3 separate regions of the Homo sapiens genome follow, and all the other regions are linked to region 2. Evidence: fine-mapped expression QTL. A gene starts in region 2. Each other region holds a variant in brackets. All regions are shown on one strand. Distances are from middle to middle. Region 1 has its middle 130 kb from the start of SLC8A1. Region 2 holds the start of SLC8A1 (solute carrier family 8 member A1). Region 3 overlaps SLC8A1 (solute carrier family 8 member A1).

What was found. PIP is the estimated chance that this variant, and not a neighbour inherited with it, causes the effect.
Region 1: its variant is fine-mapped to the expression of SLC8A1 in whole blood (INTERVAL, PIP 0.97).
Region 3: its variant is fine-mapped to the expression of SLC8A1 in whole blood (TOPMed, PIP 0.91).

Annotation. Positions count from the first base shown.
Region 1 is chr2:40,574,662-40,581,968 of GRCh38, forward strand. No RefSeq gene overlaps it. Among named protein-coding and RNA genes, the nearest start is that of SLC8A1, 130 kb to the left of the region's middle. The variant C/T (reference allele first, on the strand shown) is at 4,153.
Region 2 is chr2:40,448,910-40,456,216 of GRCh38, forward strand. It overlaps SLC8A1 (solute carrier family 8 member A1), which reads right to left and starts at 3,181. Exons shown (of 11, transcript NM_021097.5): 1 at 2,995-3,181.
Region 3 is chr2:40,390,874-40,398,180 of GRCh38, forward strand. All of the region lies in intron 2 of SLC8A1 (solute carrier family 8 member A1), which reads right to left. It also overlaps the pseudogene LOC124905995. Among named protein-coding and RNA genes, the nearest start is that of SLC8A1, 58 kb to the right of the region's middle. The variant G/C (reference allele first, on the strand shown) is at 3,318.

The DNA.
Region 1 (7,307 bases), 130 kb after region 2:
CACCCCACAAATTCACAGATAAAAGCCCTAATGTTACAATATGATGATATTTGAAGATGGAGTTTTGGGGAAGTAATGCTCAGATGAGGTCATGAAGGTGGGATTCTCAAGATGACATGAGTGTTCTTACTAGAGGAAGAGAGACCAGAGCTCTCTCTTTCCCTACCATGTGAAGATACAGTAAGAAGGAGGTCATCTTCAAACTTGGAAGAGGACCCTTACCAGAAACTGAATCTGCTGTCATCATGTTCCTGGACTTTGCAAACTCCAGAACTGTGAGAAATAAATGTTTATGGCTTAAGCCACTCAGTCTATGGTATTTTGTTATAGTAGCTCAAGCTGATATGCTACAAGTATTTTTTTCAATTTCTTTTATAAGATATCTGGACATTCTTCTTTATCCTAGCTTTCATGCATTAGAGTTGAGTTGTATCAATTATTTTTTTACCTATATTAAAATGTTAACATAATTTTTCTCTTTTTTATGTTTTTTTAATGGTTATACTGATTGATTTGGTTGTTAAACTAGCCTTGCATTCCAAGTATAAACCCACCTTGATCATGATGTATTTTTATTTTTAATATATTCTAATAAGAGTTTGTTACAGTTTTTAGTTTTTAAATTTTTAATGTTTTTTACATTTATTTTCATGAGACATTAGTCTATATATCTTTTTTCAATTTTTGGCATCAAAATTATTTTGACCACATGAAATAAATTGGGTAATATTTTTTCTTTTTTTCTGGAAGAATTCATGTAAGATTAGTATTTCTTCCTTAAACATTTAAGGTAATTTACTGGTAATGCTATATTGGCATCGAATTTTCATTGAAGAAAATCTTTAATTAGTAATGACATTTCATTATTAGTTATGAGTTTATTCAATTTTTCAGTTTCTCCTTGTGTCATTTTGTTATGTTTCTGGTGTACCTTACAAATTTTATCTAACTTCCTTAATGTGTAGGCATAAAGTTGTTCATAATATATTGTTATATTTTAGTGGATTTAGGATCAATATTTCTCATATTTATTATTTATATTTATTTTTCCTAATTAAACCTAAGGTTTTTCATTAGATTGTTATACTAACTTCTGCTATAATAGCTATACTCATTTATTAAAATAAACACTGTCTCCTTTTTATATGTGCATTTGTATATATTGTGCTGATTTCACTGATCTTCTTTGGAATATTTTGAGTTTTAAAAATTATTTCACTGTATAGTATATATTCTTTTTTGTGTGAATAATTTTCTAAATTTAAAAAAGTTAGTGAATTGGTTCTATAATTTTTCTTTCTAGATATAAATTAACATAATACCTACAGATTCCTACTTCTTCTTACAGCACCCCTTGGATACTTACTCAAATGAATCATATATTTATCTGCATATTTATATCCAGTGATTCTATGCAATTAAAATATATTTAAAATGTGTACAAAGTTTTAACGTTTTATTAGGCGGGGTCCGGGGTTGAAGCCTCATAAATTGATGATTGCTACATTCAGCAGAAAAATTGATTTAGTTGAAGGATATTACGTATCTCCAGGAGAAGGCTGAAGACTAGGTAGGGCTCAGGAAATAGGCAGGAATGAAGAGAAGGTGTTTATCCAGAAACAAAGTCACTGTTGTACCACAGAACTTATCTACTTAGCGTGCTGTTGTTGATCCTATAAATAGACATAGGAGGCCATTCTTGCTCCTGATGCCATTGGATGCCATATTCCACAATCGACTGACAGAATGAACTATAATCTATTCTTAACATCACTGTTCCTTGTCACTTATTCAATGTCTCAGGCAAAAGTATATCATCGGTTGAATCTGATACTTGCCTGCTTCTAGGTGCCAGGGAATAGAGAGAACAAACATTTAGCTTTTTGGATTCCACGAAGACTAACAGAGTGTGAAAATCCCTTTGATGGGGGTTCGGATTCTGGTCAGTCAAGTAATGTTACTAAATGACCATTTTGAAGGGCTATCCACTGGAATGGTGAAAATACGATGTAAAGTGTCAAACTGCTAAAGGAAAACATATATATGTCACAAATAAAGTTTAATCTAAGATGAGAAAGGAGATACATAAAAGAAATAAGGAACAATAAGATATTGTGGTGTATGTAGTGGACATTTTCTGTTTTTGACTACCTAAATCAATATATTCTGATTTTGATAACAGCATCTGGATTTGATCTTCAGAACGACCCTATTTTCCATGATTCAGGTAGAGATAACTCAACCTGCTGTGGTGGACTCAGGTTTGGGCTTGACCAGTCAAGACATTCTATCTCACTGGTGACCGAGATTAGCTCAGGGTTGGGTATGTTACTCATGTAGGGCAAATGAAACCCTTACAGAAAATTTTGGAAACTATTAGAACAAAGGAATACACCCATTTCAGAACAGTTGCATGTTTGTAACAGAATCTTCAAACTGCTTATAGCCGTCTTGATCCTGTGTAGGAAGATGCTGACTGAGAAGCAGGAAGGAGCCCAGTGAGAAGAAACCAGACATCAGAGATGGAAAGACAGATCCCTGACCATAGTCATTGCAGTTGATTACAGTCCTGCCTAAATTGGATAAGTCATAAGAAGGAAACTCTTTTAACTTACTAAAATATATAAAAGAAGGTTCAAATTCCCAACTGGCTTTTTTTCTTTTTAAATAGAATAAACAAATTCTAAAGTTGATTCCAAAAGAATTTGGATAAAAATAACCCAGAAAATTTGAAAACCCATATGATGATTAATAAATGTCAAAGCATAAAGTAATGCTGCAGGAATTAAAACAGTGTGGGTTTGGTGCTGGGACAAATTAATTAATGGGAAAGAAGGAAGTACAGGATATTTCATGCATAAATGAAATTATATGAAAAACAACTTCTTACCATGACATTTATGTCCCTTTGTGATCTGGTCCTTGTCAAACTCTTTATCTTTTCTCTCCACAGTCTGTCAGGAGAAGTTATAGTTGGAGCTGACAAAGAAGAAGAGGATAGCCAACTGGAGATTTTCAGTAGAAGTTCACAGCTATAACCCGTGTTTCAGCAGGGAGGGAGTTGGGGAGTAGAGAATAAGTAGCCTGACCCAACTGTTCTCTGTTCTTTCAATCTCCATCATATTTCTCATTGGCAGAGTCCATTTGGAAACTAGAAGGCAACAAGACTGGTTGAGACAATCCTTTAGGTAGTCCAAAGGTAGCTCTGGGGCGCAGAGCAGAGAAGATAAAGAAAGTGGAGTAGTACAAGGAAAATAATCCCTCAAGCCACCATATATCCAAATGATTTTCAACCTTCCTGTTGTACTTCTTCTCCTTCAGGAATGGTCTTCACAGATCCACCCCTATATCTGACTACTCATCTTTCAAAATTGAATTCAGTGTCCCTTTAAATTTGAGTCAGGGCCAGAAGTCAAATAAGAGAGTTCCAGGCCTTGGTATATTTTTCTAATTGCTTCACACCTAGAATGAAAGGTTTTTATTGAATTACTGAATGAAAGCTCCTGAAAGACAAGCAGGTACCAAGCAAAAAACCTGGAATTTATACTTTGGGGGCTACAGAATAAGGTAAACTTGTGGAATACTGTCAGTGTCCTCAAAACCAAAATAAGCAACCTTTATAGGTAGTCAAAGCCCTAAATTTGAAGGTAACTTTGCAGTTATTAAGGGTGAGAGGGGGATTGCTATAGATTACATTTAAACTCCTCAGATGTTTCTGATATGTTTCAACAGTCTATAGAAAAAAGACAATTCCTCAAACCCGTTCTCTAGAAAGCTTGAGTGTCTGCACAGTTCCTGGCCTGGACTGCCCTGTTATTTCTTGTGGGTCTTCCCTCTGCTGATAGTCTTGCTGATGATGCATGTGCGGTGGGCATGTTGGCATGATTCCTCTGGTTTTTAACGGGAGGACCCAGCATCCAAAAATAGAGTGACTTTATATGTAAATACTGAAGTAATACTTCTGGGAACTTGATAGAAAATTCAGTCTCCTAAGTTTCTTTATATTCCATTATTTTATTTGCTAAGAATATTATGGAAACTATTCCAGTATCCTTTAGTAAGAAGCTCATTAACAATGAATGAGTATAGTCAATAGAGATATTGTTCTGTAAGCAAATAGAACAAATTTTGCTAGGTATAATGCCAGGCTAA[C/T]GTCGTTTATTATACAACATATGCCTCAATTAAATTTTCATGTGATATAGTGCATGCAGATTTTCTAGGATAAACAGCGATGTTCAGAAACTAAAGCCTTAATATAGCGTGCTAGCAAACCCTGAGACAGCAAATCAATAGAATATTCAAGTCAAACAAGACAGTTTCAGACAAGGACAAAGTACTAACCTTAAATGTGAATGCATTTGCATTTATAAATGTAGCTTAAATCAATTTGTGTCTAATTTTCTTGTAATTATATCCTGATATTTAGAAATCATAAATATATTTTAAAACTCTTCTATTGACATTGTAATGATCTAAATTGAATTCAGGTTGTCTGGCCTTTATTATATCCTCAGTGATGTGATATCACATATGAACATGATGACTACAATTTATTCAGACTACAGTAGCAAGTATCAGTGATAAACTCTTGATTACCAAATTTTAAGCTCCCTGTATCTGTATTTTTTGTTTGGATTTCCAAATATATCCCTTCAGTTATTTTATTCTTAATTAAGATACAATGTACATATCACAACACTCATCTTTTAGTGATTTTTAGTATGTTCATAATATTGTGAAACCATCATCACTAATTCCAGAATATTTTCATCATCCTCAAAAGAAATTCCATACCCTTGAGCAGTCACTCCACACTATTCTCTGCCCCAACCCCTAGCAGCTATTTAATGCTGATTGATATTCTATGTATTTTCTTACTTTGGACGTTTTATATACATGGGATCCCATATTAGGTAGCCTTTTGTGTCTGACTTTTTTAGTTAGCATGATTTTGTCAAGGTTCATCCATGTTGCACCATGAATCAGCACTTTATTTATTTTTATGGTTGAGTGATATTCCATTTTATGGATATATCACATTTTGTTTATGCACTTGTCAGTTGAACATTTGGGTTGTTTCCACTTTTTGGCTGTTATGAATAATGCAACAGTGAACATTTGTGTAGATGGGATGCTTTCAATTCTCTTGGATATATGTCTACAGTGGAATTGCTGGATCATATGATAATTGTATGTTTATAATAACTTCTGTGGAACTCCCAGAGTTTTCTAAAACACTGCATCATTTTGTATTCCCATCAGCAAAGCATAAGGATTCCAACTTCTCCATTCCTTGCCAATACTAGCTATAATGTCTTTTTATTGTATCTATTCTTCATTCTTAAATTTAAAAATCCAATTAACCCATTAGAATATCATTTTTTTGTAATGAGTATTGACTATTCTAGATAACTGTTTGTGATTAAAGCTTTTTTCTCAACTGTTTTTATTAGTTTGAACAGCAAAAATGATATAACCTTATTATATTTATATTTGAATTATTTACTTGATTAGTTTAGCCATTCTTCTGACTTAAGGATGGTATATCACTTAATTTTGCATCACACATAAAATCACATCATTCTGAAAGAATCATCAAACACCAACACCCTAGATACTAAGTCTGGATTTGCAACTGGCTACTTATGTCATCTTTGACAAATTATATAAATTGTTCTTTGCCTCATTTTTGATATCTGTAAAACTAAGAAAATGCTAAACACTTGCCAAGAAATTGTAGGAATTTCATGAGTATCTTGATCTTCCATTGATTCTACAATAAGTTACCACAAACTTGGGGGCTTAAACAATACAAATGTATTATTATTTTATAGTATTATAGATGAGTATTCTGACAAGACTCTTACCAAGTTAAAATCAAGATGTGAGCATAGTGCATTCTTTTATACAGGTTATGGGTAAAATATGATTTCTTGCTCTTTTCTGGTTTTCAAGACTTCTCACATTACTTGGCTTATTATCATTGCCCGCCCATCCTTAATTTTCAAAGCCCGCAAGGGTAGATAGAGGCCTCCTTACACTTTCCTTCCTCTGGATTTCTTACAACACCAGAAAAGATTCTCTACTTGAAAGGATTTGTGGTTAGAGTGACCCCACCCAGATAACATAGGATAATCATTCCATCTCAAGTTCCTTAATCTTAATCACATCTGCAAAGTCCCCTTTGCCATATATATTAGTCTGTTTTCACACTGCTGATAAAGACATACCTGAAATTGGGCAATTTATAAAAGCAAGAAGTTTAACTGGACTCACAGTTCCACATGGCTGGGCAGGCCTCACAATCATGCAGAAGGCAAGGAGGAGCAAGTCACATCTTACATGGATGGCAGCAGGCAAAAAAAAAAAAAAAGAGCTTATGCAGGGAAACTCCCATTTTTTAAAACCATCAGATCTCATTCACTATCATGAGGACAGTGCAGGAAACACTTGTCCCCACAATTCAATCACCTCCCACAACACATGAGAATTGTGGGAGTTAAAATCCAAGATGAGATATGGGTGAGGACACAGCCAAACCATATCACCATGTAAGGTAACATATTCACAGGGTCTGGGGATTGGGTTGTGAATATTTCTGCAGGGCCATTATTTTGCCTACCACAATGAGATTATGTGTGTCTCATGACAAATACAGGTCCGACACTTAGTTAATTCTGGATATACATAATAGTACTTTTATTATTTAAAATAGGTACTACATGATAAAATGACAAAGGACACTTCAAAATGCCAAAAAGAGATGGATAACCAAATCTGAGAAGCTTTACATAAACTAAATATATAAATATTATTACTATTCCTCCAAAATAATTCCTCTCTTAGGATATTAGTTCAGCCAGGTAGGCTTCTATGTGCCAGATGATTTTCTTGGTATGAAGCCATTAAAATATACTCATTACCAGCCACAATTGTTTCACCTTTCCTCTGCATGGGCAGCCAAAATATCTCAGTGCCATTTGGATAGATTTCATTTTTGTGATCTAATCATCACAATTCATACTTAAAACTGAAGAAACACCAAACAGACATAAAGGAAAATATTATTGCTATTGCCACTATTTTAAAAAGTAGATTGTTGGCTCTGTCCTCTGTGATAAATCACATTTTTTCTTTTATTAATTCGCATCAATATCTGTAATTTCTGTAACTCTAAGACGTGATGTGTACCTATAGTTTTCTCTTGAAATGGGGAGAGTAGGCAGTAGTTTTTAGGGAGCAGAGACGTAACTTTCATAGTTGCAAAGGTCTCCGTTACGAAGTATGAAATCATTCTAGTTTCTGTC
Region 2 (7,307 bases):
GTGACAATTTAATGTTTACTTGAAAGCAACATACTACGAAAATATAAAACATGCAACATATGTGCTCTAACAGCCTCTTCTAGAGGCTGCATTTCTTTTTCCAGATCTAATTTATATTTCAGTTTGAATTTTGTTTATTGCCATATTTTTAGGGCAGTCTCCTTCTTATCTATATACTATCCTCCCTGTACCTAAAAGGCATCACAAAGAAAGAACTTGTCTCACTGAATTGCAACATTAAAAAAAAAAAACAAAAAACAAAAAACAACAACAAAAAAAAACACACAGACATTAATGTCCCAAAATGCACTTACTTTGAGACAACCACATCTATGAGCTAAATGAATGCCTTGGCTGGCTTTTTAAAGGGGAATTGCAACTTCCTTGGATCTGCACAGCTTTTCTCATCATTTATTTTGTCAAAGAAATAGATTGAATACTAAGAGGAATCATGTGTTTATTTTGCAAGTAAATAAAAGTCTATATTTGCCTGGCAAAAGCATGTTAAACATAGCTTTTTAACAGATGCTGAAGTTCTCTTGGAATATATTTTATTTTTTCAAAACACAGAAAGCTTAACAGAGCAATTAACATAATTCCTGCAAATAGTCCTATAGATGTTACTGACTATACCTCACTTTCCATTTGTAATTTTATTGGGAGTCAAAGCACTGTTACTCCCATGCTCTTTTCTTCCCCTGGTCAACAAAAGGGCTATGTGCTTAATCTGAAACGTTACAGTAGGAACCACTATATAATAATATTAAAGTAAAGACATAGGTAGATAGATACATAGAAAATAAGCCTTCATATTTTAGTTCATTACTCTCCTCCTTCAGCCCTGTTAAGCTTTCAAGACAGTAAAGTCTGATTATCATGACACTCTTACATCCTTTGTAGCCCTATACAGCTCAACAATAAATAATGGTTTATCTCTGTTCAGTCCTTTTTGTTGCTGTTGTTTTTCTAGGAATTAATCATTTTTTTAAAAAAAGACAACAACCATTTTAAGGGGACAAAATCAGGGCTTCTTTTATAGCAGGTGTGAGAAATCTTAGCTAAAGAGCCGTGAGATCCAAATGGAATTCTTCAAGCAGGCAGAATTTGTAAAACGAAAACCATTTAAGAGCACACATCTTGCCTCTTGATGAAATAAGTTGGTCCTCCCCCACCTTCTCACTCACAAGGCCCCAAAGATGGAGCTAGTTTTCCCTTCCTTCCTCCTGCTTTCACACCCGCCTAACCTCCCAATTAAGCAAGTTTAGCAAACCCAGGGAGCTCAATCCAAGTAACACAGGATTTGAAAGAGGAACCTAAAACCAATCATCCCTCTTCCGGCTTTGTCTTCTTATTTGAAATGAATGAAACATCTAGATTCATTTTCCTTTTTTTTTCTGACTCGCTGCAGGAGTAGCTTTGAGAGAGAAAGAGAAAGCATGTGAGTGTGTGTGTGTGTGTGTGCACGCGCGCGCGCTGGTGGGGGCATGGGAAAGAGAGGTATACTTTCAGAATTCTCTCCTGGTGGCTCCCTCTTTCCCTTGGGAAATCTTCGCACAAGTCTCAGATTGTGCATGTTCAACTGCTCATATCTGGAGATACTCCAGCAATGCCTTTAACCAGATCTGATCAGAAATCTCCACCTACTCAGCTAGAGGCTCCTCCATGATCAGGACGCTTGTACTGTCTTCACCACATCTGTCATTTTTTAAAAAGCTTCTTCCACTACACCTCCCACTGATATCCTTTTTTTCTCTTTTTAGTCTTTACACCTCCAGCAGGACAAAGTTTGTATTGTTATATTCACAACCACTAGTAGCTGACTAGCAGGAGAGAGAGAGAGCGGCTTCAGGAGAGCCAGGTTCGGGGGCTTCAAAAGGATACCTAGCGCAAAGCATGACTTTCCAATGACTGCGTACAACATGCACATTGCTCTCTTCTAAAAATGCTTTGTTAAATTTCATCACCCCTGTTCTCAACTCAACCACTACCACTTTGGAGAGGGAAATACAAATTGCCAGCCCAAGCCATTCATCAAACAGCAACAGAATCCACGGGGTGGTGGGGGGGATAGAGAAGAGGCGGGGGTGATGCAGGGGGTGGATTTAAAGAATCAAGGATGCACACGTACTGTATTTTCAAGAGCATCGCCTGGGCGGATTTGGTTTCTTTGGCCGGCTGTCCAGCTATAAGACCGCCCTCTTCTTCATTAAGGAGGAGCCAAAAAGGATATCTTCACATCTCAGAACACAGACCATTTCCCCCAAGAGCCAGCAAAGCTCCAGAGGCAGAGAATGCAGCTGCAAAGTTCCCTTCCAATCTCTTGGGGAAAGATGCCTGTGTGTGCAGAATCCCCAAAGCACACCACGGCACAGTGCCCAGAGACGTGGACCCCGCAGCCCACTCCCTGCTACCCCCTACATTTCTTCCTCGTCTGTCTCTGCCCCGCCACACCTCCCTCCTCTCCGCAGTCCGTGGTGAATGAGCACCCAACGCCCGCTGGAAAACAGGGGGCTCGGAAATGTGGCCTTGGGGAAAGACCCCAGGGATTACCGGAAGGAGGGATGTCCGCGGAGAAGAGTCCAGTGGGTGGGGACGCCTGGATCCCCAGCAGCTCTGCATTCGGGGTGGACTTAGCTCTTCGCGCCCTGAATCCTCAGAGCCCAGCGCGGTGCAGGGTGCAGCATCTCTCCTTAGCAGCCCTTTCTTCCTCCGGCAGCCTGCACTGGCAGGCAGGCAGGCACCCTCACGCCCAGACGCACCAGCCCGAGCAATTTCACTCTGGGAAGCGCGGACACCCAGAAAAATGTGCAGGCGCGCACACACCACATCACACACACACACACACACACACACACACACACACACACACACACACAAATTTAGAAGCCGCTCGTTTGCCAAAGCAGAGGGAAGTGTAGCCTTATGAGCAGCAAATGGAAAATAGTTCTTGGTCTCTGACTAAATGCCTTCTGCCTGTCCATCATAAGATCCTACCTGGTTTGGGGAGTGTGAATGGATTCTTCCTCCGTTCCTCCACGCTAGTAGAAAATACGGCGCACTCCCTCCTTTTAAACAGCTCCCGATCAGGAAGAGGTCGCTCCCATCTTCTGTGGGAAGCACAAAGCAGGCGGCGGCGGCGGGCTGACTACCGTGCAGCGCCGGCGCGAGCGGGAGCCGCGGCAGCGGGCAGCGGTGCGCGCGGGCGGGAGGCAGGCGCGGAGGCCGGGAGGCTGGGAGGGCCGGGGCCCGGGCGCGCGCGCGCTCCCCCTCCCTCCCGCGCACACTCGCCCGCCCGCCGCCCGCAGCCTCGCACTCGCTCACACGCGCGCTCGGCCCCGCGGCTGCCGGGCGCCCCGGGGCCCCCTGCGCGCCCCTTGGGCTCCCCAGGCGATCGCGTCGGGGCAAAGCCGGCGCGTTTCTGGAGCACCGAGCGGGTGGGGAGCCCTTCCAGCCTCCCAGCCTCTGCCGGCGAGCAGCTTTTTCGATTTCCTGCCGGCTCTCGGCCCCGCAGTGCGTTGTGGCCGCGCGCTAGCGCTGTCTCTCGCACCCAGCCCATCGATGACACGCGCACACAGGCGCTGCAACTTTTCTTTTGAACCCTCTTCTTCTCTTCCGCAGACAGAACCCTGACCCCCAATTCGCCTACCCGTTTCTCACCTCTGACTTTGTTAATCCAACTATCTTTCTTCCCTCACTTCCTGCCCTTCTGCTAAAGGAAGCTTTCTTTTAGCAAAAGGATCTGGGCATATATCAATGATTTTTTTTTTAATCCTCACCCTGTGTTTTTCTACGTATCAGATATGCACAACTATACGTTGGCTACTAGATGCTGACACAAGCAAACAGAGATATTCGGGGGAGGGTGTCCCCCGGCCAAGAACTGGGACAGAGTCTCTGTGTTGGTATTTCCCTCAAAGATGCGTTTCACCTGGGAATAAAGACCCAGAGTCTGTTTCGTGTGAAAGGCGTGCTGGTTTTAAACTACAGTGAGGAGTAAAAGCCGAGCATTAAGGTTGAGTGGGAAAAAACCTAATGCAGCAATCGACGAACCATTCTTTGCCCTTTCCAAGAGAAGCATTATCATTGCCAATAAATCACTTTCCTCATAATTAATAAAGGAACACTGCACCAGGCCTTTCCTCTCTTGACAGCTCATTCATTCTTACAAACCCTTAATGACTTCACGTGGTGAAAGGCTAGACCTACTGTGGAGTTCACTAGCTTCCAAACCTGGCTGCGCATCACACACACCTGGGAATGTAGTCAGATGCTGTAGAATCTGAGGCCGAATCTGATGCAGACTCTCCCGTTGTAGGTCTCAAATGGGGCTCCAAATTAGTATTTTTAAAACACCAGTTGCTATCGGCCACTGGTGTCGTTTGCCAAGGTGTGTGGGGGGGTCAGGAGCAGCTACTTGGGGAAGGTGGGAGAAGGAGGGACCTGCAGAGCACAAGGCAGAAAGTTAGTTTTTTTTCGTGGAGACGTCCCCCCATACTTACAGTGCAACCAGGGCAGTCACCACGACTGATAGATTCTGACTCCAGGAACCTCAGTTTGCCTCCGCAACAAAGAGGGGGCGGAATGGAAGAAATAGCCTCTTCTGCCCCTGTGCCAGTGGCTCTCAACCCTCCTTGCACCTCAGAATCTCCTGGGCCGTTTTTAAAAATCCCAGTGCTTAGGCCACACCCCCAAACTGATTAACTTTGACTCTCTGCAGGTGGGCCCCAGACAGCCTTAATTTGTTTTTAAGATGCCTGGTTGATTCCTATGTGCAATGAAGGTTGAGAACCACTGCTCTAGGCCAATACTCCTCAAACATGAATGTGAGTATGAATCACATGGGGATTGCAGATTCTTTTTCAATAGACCTGGAGCAGGCCTGGGGTAGGCAAGTGTTGAAGTGATGCTGAGGCCGTCTGAATGAGGACCTCACTTTAATTAGTCGGGTCTGTTGCCAGCAGTCTTGGATACTGGCTTTGTAGAGGACACTCTAAGCTGCTTCACGTCTTATAAAATTTGCAGGAATCGTTCTTGCCTAAGAACATTTTTCTTTCCTTGCTATAAGTTAAATTTTCTTGGAAGCTACTTTCCACACCAACTTGGTTAGACTACACTTACTAGTGGATATAAACAGAATGACCTGTGGGGAGAGACAGAAGGTCACTGTCTCTTTTAGAATATGTCCTCTACCAAAAATTACTTAGAGTCCCTGAATTTAAGGCAGTGTGAGTAGCAGATATTTGGCTCACACTCAATGAAAGGGGCTTGGAGAGAAAAGTGGCTGCCTTCTAAATAACACTAAGGAAAGCTTATAACTAAAGACTCCACTCAATAGGAAATAGAACACAGCCAAATGAAGGAACCAAGAGAAAGCTAAATGAAAATGTGAGTGGGCCATATTTCACTGGAATAGATTTTGTGGAAAGAGTGTAGCCTCTTATTGCTATGACGGGCCGCTTAGTGAAAGCTGAGATTTTCTTGAAATTTTAGGCATGTTTGTGACATGGAGTGACAAGAACCCTGTTCTTTAAATGTTTATACTCCAGTGATGCCCAAAGTCTGTCTTAAGACTTTTTTTTTTTTTTTTTTTGCTTTGACCATTGAAACTGAAAGGCTACATCTTGGCCACTTGATTCTTCCTCTTTTCCAATCGAAACTGCTTTTAGACTGATTTGGATTCTTGGGAAAAAAACAATATTAAATGGTCTTCTGTTTATCTAGAACTATTGGAGAGGCAGCCTAGTGCCTAGTGATTTGGCATCCTTTTTGGTTCAGTCAGTTTCTGAGCCCCTAATTTTCTTTGCCTTTCATTTCTCTTTAAAGGCATTTTTATAATGGTTCCAGGGCCCCAAGGCAAATCAAACCTTTTGCTCCCTCCTAAATGTCATACATGAGTGAGTTTTTATTGCGAGAATTATCAAAGGCTGCATCACAGGCACAAGGCTGAGGAAGACTATGGCTCTAAGAAAGGAAAAAGTGAGGCTGCTGCAGTCTGTGGCTTTGGAAAGAAGACATGTTGAATGGAGGAAGGTGGTAATTTACATTCTAATAGCAGTAATGTTTCTTAATTGCAGTCTTCCATATTGATTGCCATTCTTTCCTCTGGACTTGGAATTAAGAGTCACCGGGTCTCCACTGTTATCTAACCAAAGCAATACGACACAACCATTCAGGGGACTCCACAGGGATATCACTAAGATTTGATATATTCGAAAGATGTTCTGATGTTCACAAACTATTTCCTAGGAAACCTTCAGGGGATCTGTTAGCAAACTCATTTTCAGACCAAGTGTAAATATTGTGAATTAGGCCCTACTTTTTATCTAGTCTATAGAAAATTTAGACATGTGATCAGGTTACCAAGATTTTTAAAAATATTTAATACTTTACTAAAGCACTCAATATGTTTTCATCATAGGGAAAACAAGCACAATACTCTGTTTAAATTCCTTTCATTTTTACTTTGAATTACATAAATCAGAGGTACCTCTATTGTCTCTTCCATTGCTTCGGGCTTCTGAAATATGTTAATACAGTCTTAGTCGTCCCTCACCTCATTTCTTACTCTGCCAGCCTTCACTAATCACCTATCTGTTCAGTCACAGGCTCAGTTTCATAGTGATTTCTACATAAGAAAATGTTATTACATAATAGCCCCTAGCCTGGCCAGTGAGTGGAGCTTAGAATTAGCCATTTTTCCATACCTAAGAATCTCAGGTGAACCATTGGGTTCCCAGTTTTGTTCTTTAGGTTTTCTTTGCTGATGAGTAGATCCAGGGTTCTTTGCTTTGGGGATGACTTTGAGAATTCTTTGTTGACTTCTAAGTGCTGTTGTTCCTCTTCCCTGGAGACTTGTTCCTGCAGTTAAACTTTTACTTCTCTGTTTTGTTTTGACCAACTGAACACCACTCTTGTACCTCACCCAGTTGTAAACCCTGCTACTGCACAACAGTCCACAGACTGGGGCAGCCTTCCTGGCAGACTCACAGTCACAACTCTCCTCCTCTCTGCATTACCGTGGGGTCAACCACTTCCTCTGAGTCGCCAATGAATTTGTCACAGTCTTTGGACATCAGGGACCTGCAATTCTACATTTGAGCAACTGATATTAAAGAATTGGGTTTGGGCTGGGCGCGGTGGCTCACGCCTGTAATCCCAGCACTTTGGGAGGTTGAGGCGGGTGGATCACGAGGTCAGGAGATCGAGACCATCCTGGCTAACATGGTGAAATCCCGTCTCTACTAAAAATACAAAAAATTAGCCGGGCGTGGTGGCGGGCACCTGTAGTCCCAGCTACTTGGGAGGCT
Region 3 (7,307 bases), 58 kb before region 2:
TTATCTTATTTTGGCATTTCTATTCTCAGGTAGCAAATTGCCTGAAAGGGCAAACAATAAATATGGGAGCTACCGCATGGCTCTTTGTGGATATATTTGGAGGCAGTTTAACATGCTGTGGAGATGTTTCTAGAAAGATTACTGACAAGATCAACCATTTTATGAAAGTTGCTTTTATTACCTTTGGATTTTTTCTAACTTGAAAAATATTGCTCTTAAAGTATGCTTCTCTACTAATCCTTCCTGTTGAGCATTCTATTCTCCTTAAAATATATATATATATAAATATATATGTAGATGCGTGTGTGTATATATATTACACACACACATATGTCTGTGTGTATGTGTGTGTGTACATATGCACACTCACAAATAATTAAGTAATTCCATTCTGGGAGAAAGACTTTGAAGAAAAGCAGTTTATTTGCTACTCAGAAAGGGAAAGTGATGTTCGTGGGACATAAAGGGATTTGAATAAATAGGAATAAGTGTCCTTTTAAAAGAAAGCAGCATATGGAACTAGAAATACTTTCTGGAAGCTCTAATCTCCTATTTGAAGAAAATCCAATTGTTCTGGCTGGTGGCAAACTAGGAGATTACAGCTGAATTTCTCTCCCTCCATTCAATGTGAAGTAATCATAGAGCCATAAGGAATTTGACAGGAACCATAAATACTTCTCCTGTAAATCCCTAAAAATTTATAAGAGCATTATGACTTTCATGCTCTTTCTTTCCTAGAGTCTTTACTTCAAAGTCTTCTGAGACTAGAAGAGCCCCTGGAGCAATCATTCTGCTTCCATATCCACAACTTGGAACTCTTAGTCCCAGACCCTCAAATTATAGAACCTGAGGGAAAATTTAGGGGGCACTGAAACCAAATACCTTCACGTGTCAGATGACAAAATAAATCAGGTAGACAAAAAGTGTTAACCACATCACGCAAAGACCAAAACCCAAAGTTCCACATTTTCAGGCAGAGCCCTCAGCCTCATGTCACTAGGCTTCATTTCTACCAATATCGCCCCACTGACTAAATGTCCTTTGTCACTAGAATTGTTTAGTTCTGCATAAATACAAAGTATCGATGATCAAATTTGACTTATTTCTTCTCATTCAGTCCTTAAGTGGAAACAGCAAAATGCTGGTTGCCTTCTCTTAAAAAAACAAACAAACAAACAAAATAAGAAGGAAGGAGAAGGAAGGAAGGAGAAAAATAAAAAAGAAAGCGAGAATGAACAAAGAGTGAACAAATGAACCAACGGAAGAATGAAAAATAAAAGAAAGAAAAAAGAAAGGAAGAGAGGAAGAAAGAAAAGAAAAAAGAAAGAAAAGAAAAAGAAAAAGAAAAGAGAAAGAAAAAGAAAGAGAAAGGAAGCAAGCAAGCAAGCAAGCAAGCAAGCAAGAAAACCTAAAGATCTTTATCATCACATTTAAATAAGAGTAAATCTCAAGAGGCCATCTTATCTACCCGTTCCCACTAGGCATTACTCAACAGAGAACCAATAGCTAGGAACTTCCTCTATTCCTAAAGATTTTCAAGAAAGGAAGAGAAATATCTTGGGAAGTTTAGGAAACATAAATATTTAGGCTCATTTATTGATGAAAGTGGGCAAAATGAAATCATCCTATGCATCTTAGTAATACTATGTGGTATCACAAGCAGCTTGACATAACAGGCTGGTATCAATTGTCATGGGTAAGTGCTAATTGCTGAAGATCTACCAATTTGCTGTGTGCTTTTACTAAAAATATCTTTGAAAGTTCCACAGCCTTCCAAGATTTTGTATTCCTTGATATAACCTTTAAATTGCCTTCTTCACATTCCCTCTTGTTTGTTAGTAATGAAATGCCAATGATCACAGTACCGGAAAAAAGAAAACGGAGAAGAGGACAATAAAAAATCATGGTTATGATTTGTGGAGCAAAGGAGGGCTTTCAGCATTAATATTTACATTAATGTTTACGTTAAAGTGGGACAGATTACACTACTTTTTACTCACTTCACTTCTTCTTACCCTGCATAGAGTTAAATACTTACTGTTTGTGCCTTGTAAGAACTCTAAAGATTATAGTGTACTAGTAAATCTACTTTATTTTGCTGGCAGGAGTCAGCAGACAAAAGAGGAGCAGGAGAAATGTTGTCAAATCAATAGTGATACTGACTGAATTTTATCAGTGTTTCATCTTTAGCTGAACTATATGAACTCATTCAGATTTTAAAAAATATGTAAACTGTCTAATCTATTTTATAGCTCCGTTTTACAGAGTTATAACATGTCAAGAACAAAGTTACAAAATCCAAAACATACAAGTTAGCATCACCTCTATTTTTTTCTGAAAATTCCGAAAGTACAATGATTAGAACACACTTCAAACCTCACAGCTCTGTATTACTTAGGAAAAAAATCCCAACAGCTATCCAGTTGTGCTTTGAGGTCATTTCTCAAAGCATGTGCATTAAGAAACTTAGCAATCTATGTTTATGGTTGCTTTATCTGGTAGTATAATACAATGAAAATCTCACATATAAAATTTATAATGTGATATTTACAGGTTCAAGGGTGGAATTGCTATGTTCCAAATGATTTTCTGTCATCCCTTAGTTCACTGTTTCTTTAATCCTTTAAAACAATCTGTACAGCCTTTGCTGTAAAAGATTATTACATTCTTATTTCCACTGTGTAGTCATAATTTTGAATGTACTCTCTAATTTACCAACATTGTTTCCAATTCCATATAAACCCATATGAGGGTGCTCCCAGCAAAACTAATTAGGGGGATAACTGTGTAATGTGAAAAAATAAAGAATTGGAATATTATCCTTGTGTCATTTGATTTGCCAAAATTCAGCTTGTAACAATTAGATACTACAGTTGGAAAATTAGTGATTTTATTTATATAACAGGATCTGTCATAAAAGAGCCAAACTGGCAAAATCACTAATAGTCATAACCTAAATCACCCAATCAACCAAAATATTATAAAGTTCAGCTTTTATTTTTATGCCTATTACCCTTTTCATGGCAATGGGTTATTTCAAATACCCCACCACAAGCCCTGAGAACACAGCTGGGTTACTTGAAACCAGTAGCTCTAAACCAGTGGTGACTTGCCCCTTAGGTGACATGTGTCAATGACTGAAGACAGTTTTGCTTGTGGCAGTCTGGGGGATGCTACTGACATTTTGTGTAGGGCTCAGGAATGCTGCTAAACATCCTACAGTAGTGCACAGGACAGCCCCCCACAAAGAAGAATGACCTGGGCTAAAATGTCAACGGAGCTTAAAAAAAGGTTACTAGTCTAAGTGAGCTTAAGTT[G/C]AGAAACCCTGCACTAACATTAAGAACTATGTGTCCAACACGGTTGCAACATGTTACGCAAACACCTGCATTTTGTGGGGTGGGGGGTGAATACAGCCATTCTAGGGAGAGTAATTTGTTCTAACTTGGGTATTTCTGCCCAATAAGCTAGTAAGATATTTGCTTTTTCTAACGTGGATTCATCAGGGCACTGAAATTTAACTATTTTATTTAAAATATGGTATATACTATTTCTTTGTGGTTTTTCTGTTAGTGTGTGTGTGTGCGTGTGTGTGTGGTGTGTGAGTGAATTTCTGAAACAGAGCGGTAGCAAGCAAATGGCAGATTTGGTTTTATCATCAAGTTTCTGTTAGACATTTCGATAAGATTATACAGAGCATATAGTGGATGCCTACTACATATTTATTGATTTTTGAAAATAAAGTTTGTGAACCTATTTCTGCTATCTTCCTCTTTAGAGAACTGTGATTGCATTTTTCTTCTTTTTTTCTAACATGTATAGAGTGCCTGTTGCCATAGTAATCACTGATTTAGCACAACGTGTTTTTTCCTCCTTCTTTAAAAAAAAATTAGTTCCCATTCCTGCCAAAAAGGAACATATTAATCTACCCATCATGCTAGCTTGGGGAAGTTGAAGGCCACAGAAGTTGTCATTTGTGCAAAGACTCCCAGAAAGTCAGTTGTTAGCATCTTCTGTGCCAAGAACTCTACCCCAATCCCAGAGAGGAAATGAGACACTGAAGTAAAAGATTCTGGAGCTGAGGAGGTAACATCTCTCTTCTTTTCTGCAAAGTCCCACAAAAGATGTGCACAAATGCTCATGTCTGTGTAAACAAATTCACCTACTGATTATAGATTTAACAGACCACTGATGTCCAGAAAACAGGGACTAACTAGACAGTGCTCTTTAAGACAAAAGTTTACCTTAATCTACTTACTTCTGAGGGTAGGGGAACAACAACAAAAGCAACAACTAAAGAAACAAAAACCTTTTGAGAAGTCTAAAAGAAGTAGAGAAATCCTACTGAAGAAACCAACATCAACAGTTTCATTTCTTTATCAAATAAAAAGTCCGGCCTGAGTCTCCTGACTGACTACATTCTTTCTAGTATTAGGTAAATCAGATCTCAAATCTGATCTAGCCCTGCTATTCAGACCACGAATTCCTGTAAACATACCTATCTAGAACTGTGTGCAGGCCCCTCTTATGACAATGGTCTGTGCTCACCTGGATTTTTATCACTGGCACTCTTAGTCAGGACCACCAGATTCTTCCTAATTTCTCAAGTCAAATCCGAAGGCTACCCTGCTTGTGGTGTTCCATAACTCTGTCTGGCCCCTCATGAGAAATGCCACCTACTTGGATGAGAGCATTTAAGTCAGAGCAAGACAGCACAGAGGTTGACTTTAGGTTCCCATCTGACATATTTACTGTTCTAAGAGAGGAAAGGTAGTGGAAGAGAAAGAAAAACTAAAGTGGAACTGCAGGATTTCTGATTTTCAGAAATGTCTGCTTATTATCAGAGTGATAAGAACTCAAAATTAAGACATGGGAAAGGAAAAGATAGGGATATAGAGTCAGAGCTGTTCCTTAACCAAAGGCTTTACAGAATTAGAACACAGCTGACACAGGAAATTCAATGCAAGAAGGTCCTGCTCTAAATAAAAACAGATGAGGAGAAAGTCCATTCATTTTTACTAATAGTATGCATGGAGAATGAACACACGCTGCCTTTTACATAGACCCTTATAACTGTTCATACTGTTCTGTAAAATCAGCATATTTCTTATTATTTTCTTCTGGGAAAAAACACTTGGCTATGCATTTCCTTTTAATTTCATGGAAATGGGAAAGGGGTAAAAGGAAAGAAAGATAATACTTCCTGAAAACTTGAATGTTTTGCTGAAAACACCCTTAAAGGAATGTATCTCTGTCAGGGTAACAAAAACATTTAATAAAATATTTTTAAAGCAGTTGGTCTCTAAGAGAAAATGTGAGGTATATGTAATTAGTAGCAAATATGCATTCAATTGTACTAAGCATGACCATTCTTCCCCTTTAAATCCTCAATCCATGAAGTGTGTTTGTTAATTAGGCAGTAACTTGAAGAGCGCTGCTTTTCCCATAGAAGTCAGGTGCTCAACTACTCAACCATGAATCTCTACGGTTACATGAATCTATGAATGGTCTGCAAACCACTTATACTCCAGGTTTCAATTCTGCTGCCAGTAATAATAGTAATAATACCATCATTCTATTCTAGTAGCACAGTGCAAATTTAAGATAATTAGAAGATGATGATAGAAATTTGAAAGCAATGGATTACAAAACAAGACTGCATCAAAGCATAACACGCAACACAACACTTTTTCAATTATGTACATAACCTGGAAAAACTAGTTGGCAATGAAAAAAATGTGTTGAGAAGTACCTTATTAATTCATTAAATATTTCTGTAATCCTATGTTTCTTTAAAAAGAAAAAAAGATTACTAGTCTAAGTGAGCTTTTATCTTTGTTAAGCAGCATCCTTTTAACCTCCATCATCTCTAATAACTAAAAAAAAAAAAAAAAAAAAAAAAAAAAACAAGAGAAGTTAAAGAAGCAAACCAGCAAGAGAAACTGTAGTTGCTGTATCAATGACAATTATTCCAGTGATAATGACCTGACTTTTTGGGTTGGTCTTCTAGCTAGTCCACAGGGATCCACTGTTCAGGACGGTGTTAGGGGAGGTGGGCTTTGTCATTTTGCACAAGGTTTGACAGGTTTCAGGGTTTAAATCTGCAATTTCCATGGCCCTGGAAAAGTAATGTCTAAATATTGCTTAACTGAAAGTTGCTGATGAGAATATTTCAGTGCTCTGTGCAAAGAGTGGATCCGTGGATCAGTTAATTTTATTGAACAGAAAAAAGGTGAAGTATTGTTGTAGGGATTGAATGAGAACAGATACACAGTGTTTAAAGTAATTCCTGGCACATAGTAGATATCCAAGAAGGTGTCTGACTCCACCCCTTCCTTTTCTCTCTTTCTGAATTGTATTCCACTGTCAGCTGCTAGTGTATACATGTCATGAGCTAATGTGCCCATTGATGGTTTAGCTTATGACTTTCAGGTCAGTTTTCTAAGTTGATAAAAACAAGCATTATAGATAATAAAATTCAGAGGCAGTTCCAACATGGAATAATTGGCTTGTCTCATTCCATAGTCAAAGCTCATCTCAACTAAGTTTTCCATTGCTCACAGTGAGGACTAGGGAAGAGGAATTGCTGCAAATCCATTTTCACAGGTGGGTAATCAACACAAGAAGCACTGTCAACTGATTGTGGGTGTGAAACCATCTACGCACTTGAAAGTTTTCATGTTATCATTACTATGTATCCACATACATTTGCCGAGCCTGACCGTTCCAGATCAGTCTTCTGAATGCTAGCTGCATATCAGAACCACATATGTATAGTTTCATAAATGTGACAATACTCAGGCCCTACCCTGAGACAAGTGGCACAAAGCATTCAGAAGTGGAAAGGATTCTCACCAGGAGAACCACTCTGAGAATCAATAGAAACAGAGATCCAGGTCAAAGAAAAATATTATCTTTCTTCCCTGGGAATCACCAGCATTTGCACAGACTTCTACAACTAGCTACATGACCCAGGGCAATTTCTTAAAGTGGGACACAGTGTGCTCTGAATGCAGACCTGACACTAAATTTATCATGGTTGGGTAGCTGCTGCCTTATGGAGAATGGCCTGTGGGACACTGAACTTACACATTAAACAGCTGAGCCAACGGATGTTTCAACTGCCAGGAAAATAACAGAATGGGGAGACCCTCTGTTCATTTGACACCAGTGCCAGCTTGGAGAAACAGCATTTCTTCTGCAGTTATTGAAAGAAAGTAACCCAGAAGTACCCACAGTCTTTTAGCTCTTAAAATATGGAGCCACTTTTTCTTTTCCAGCTTATTTCCAATGCAAACCTGATTCCAGGC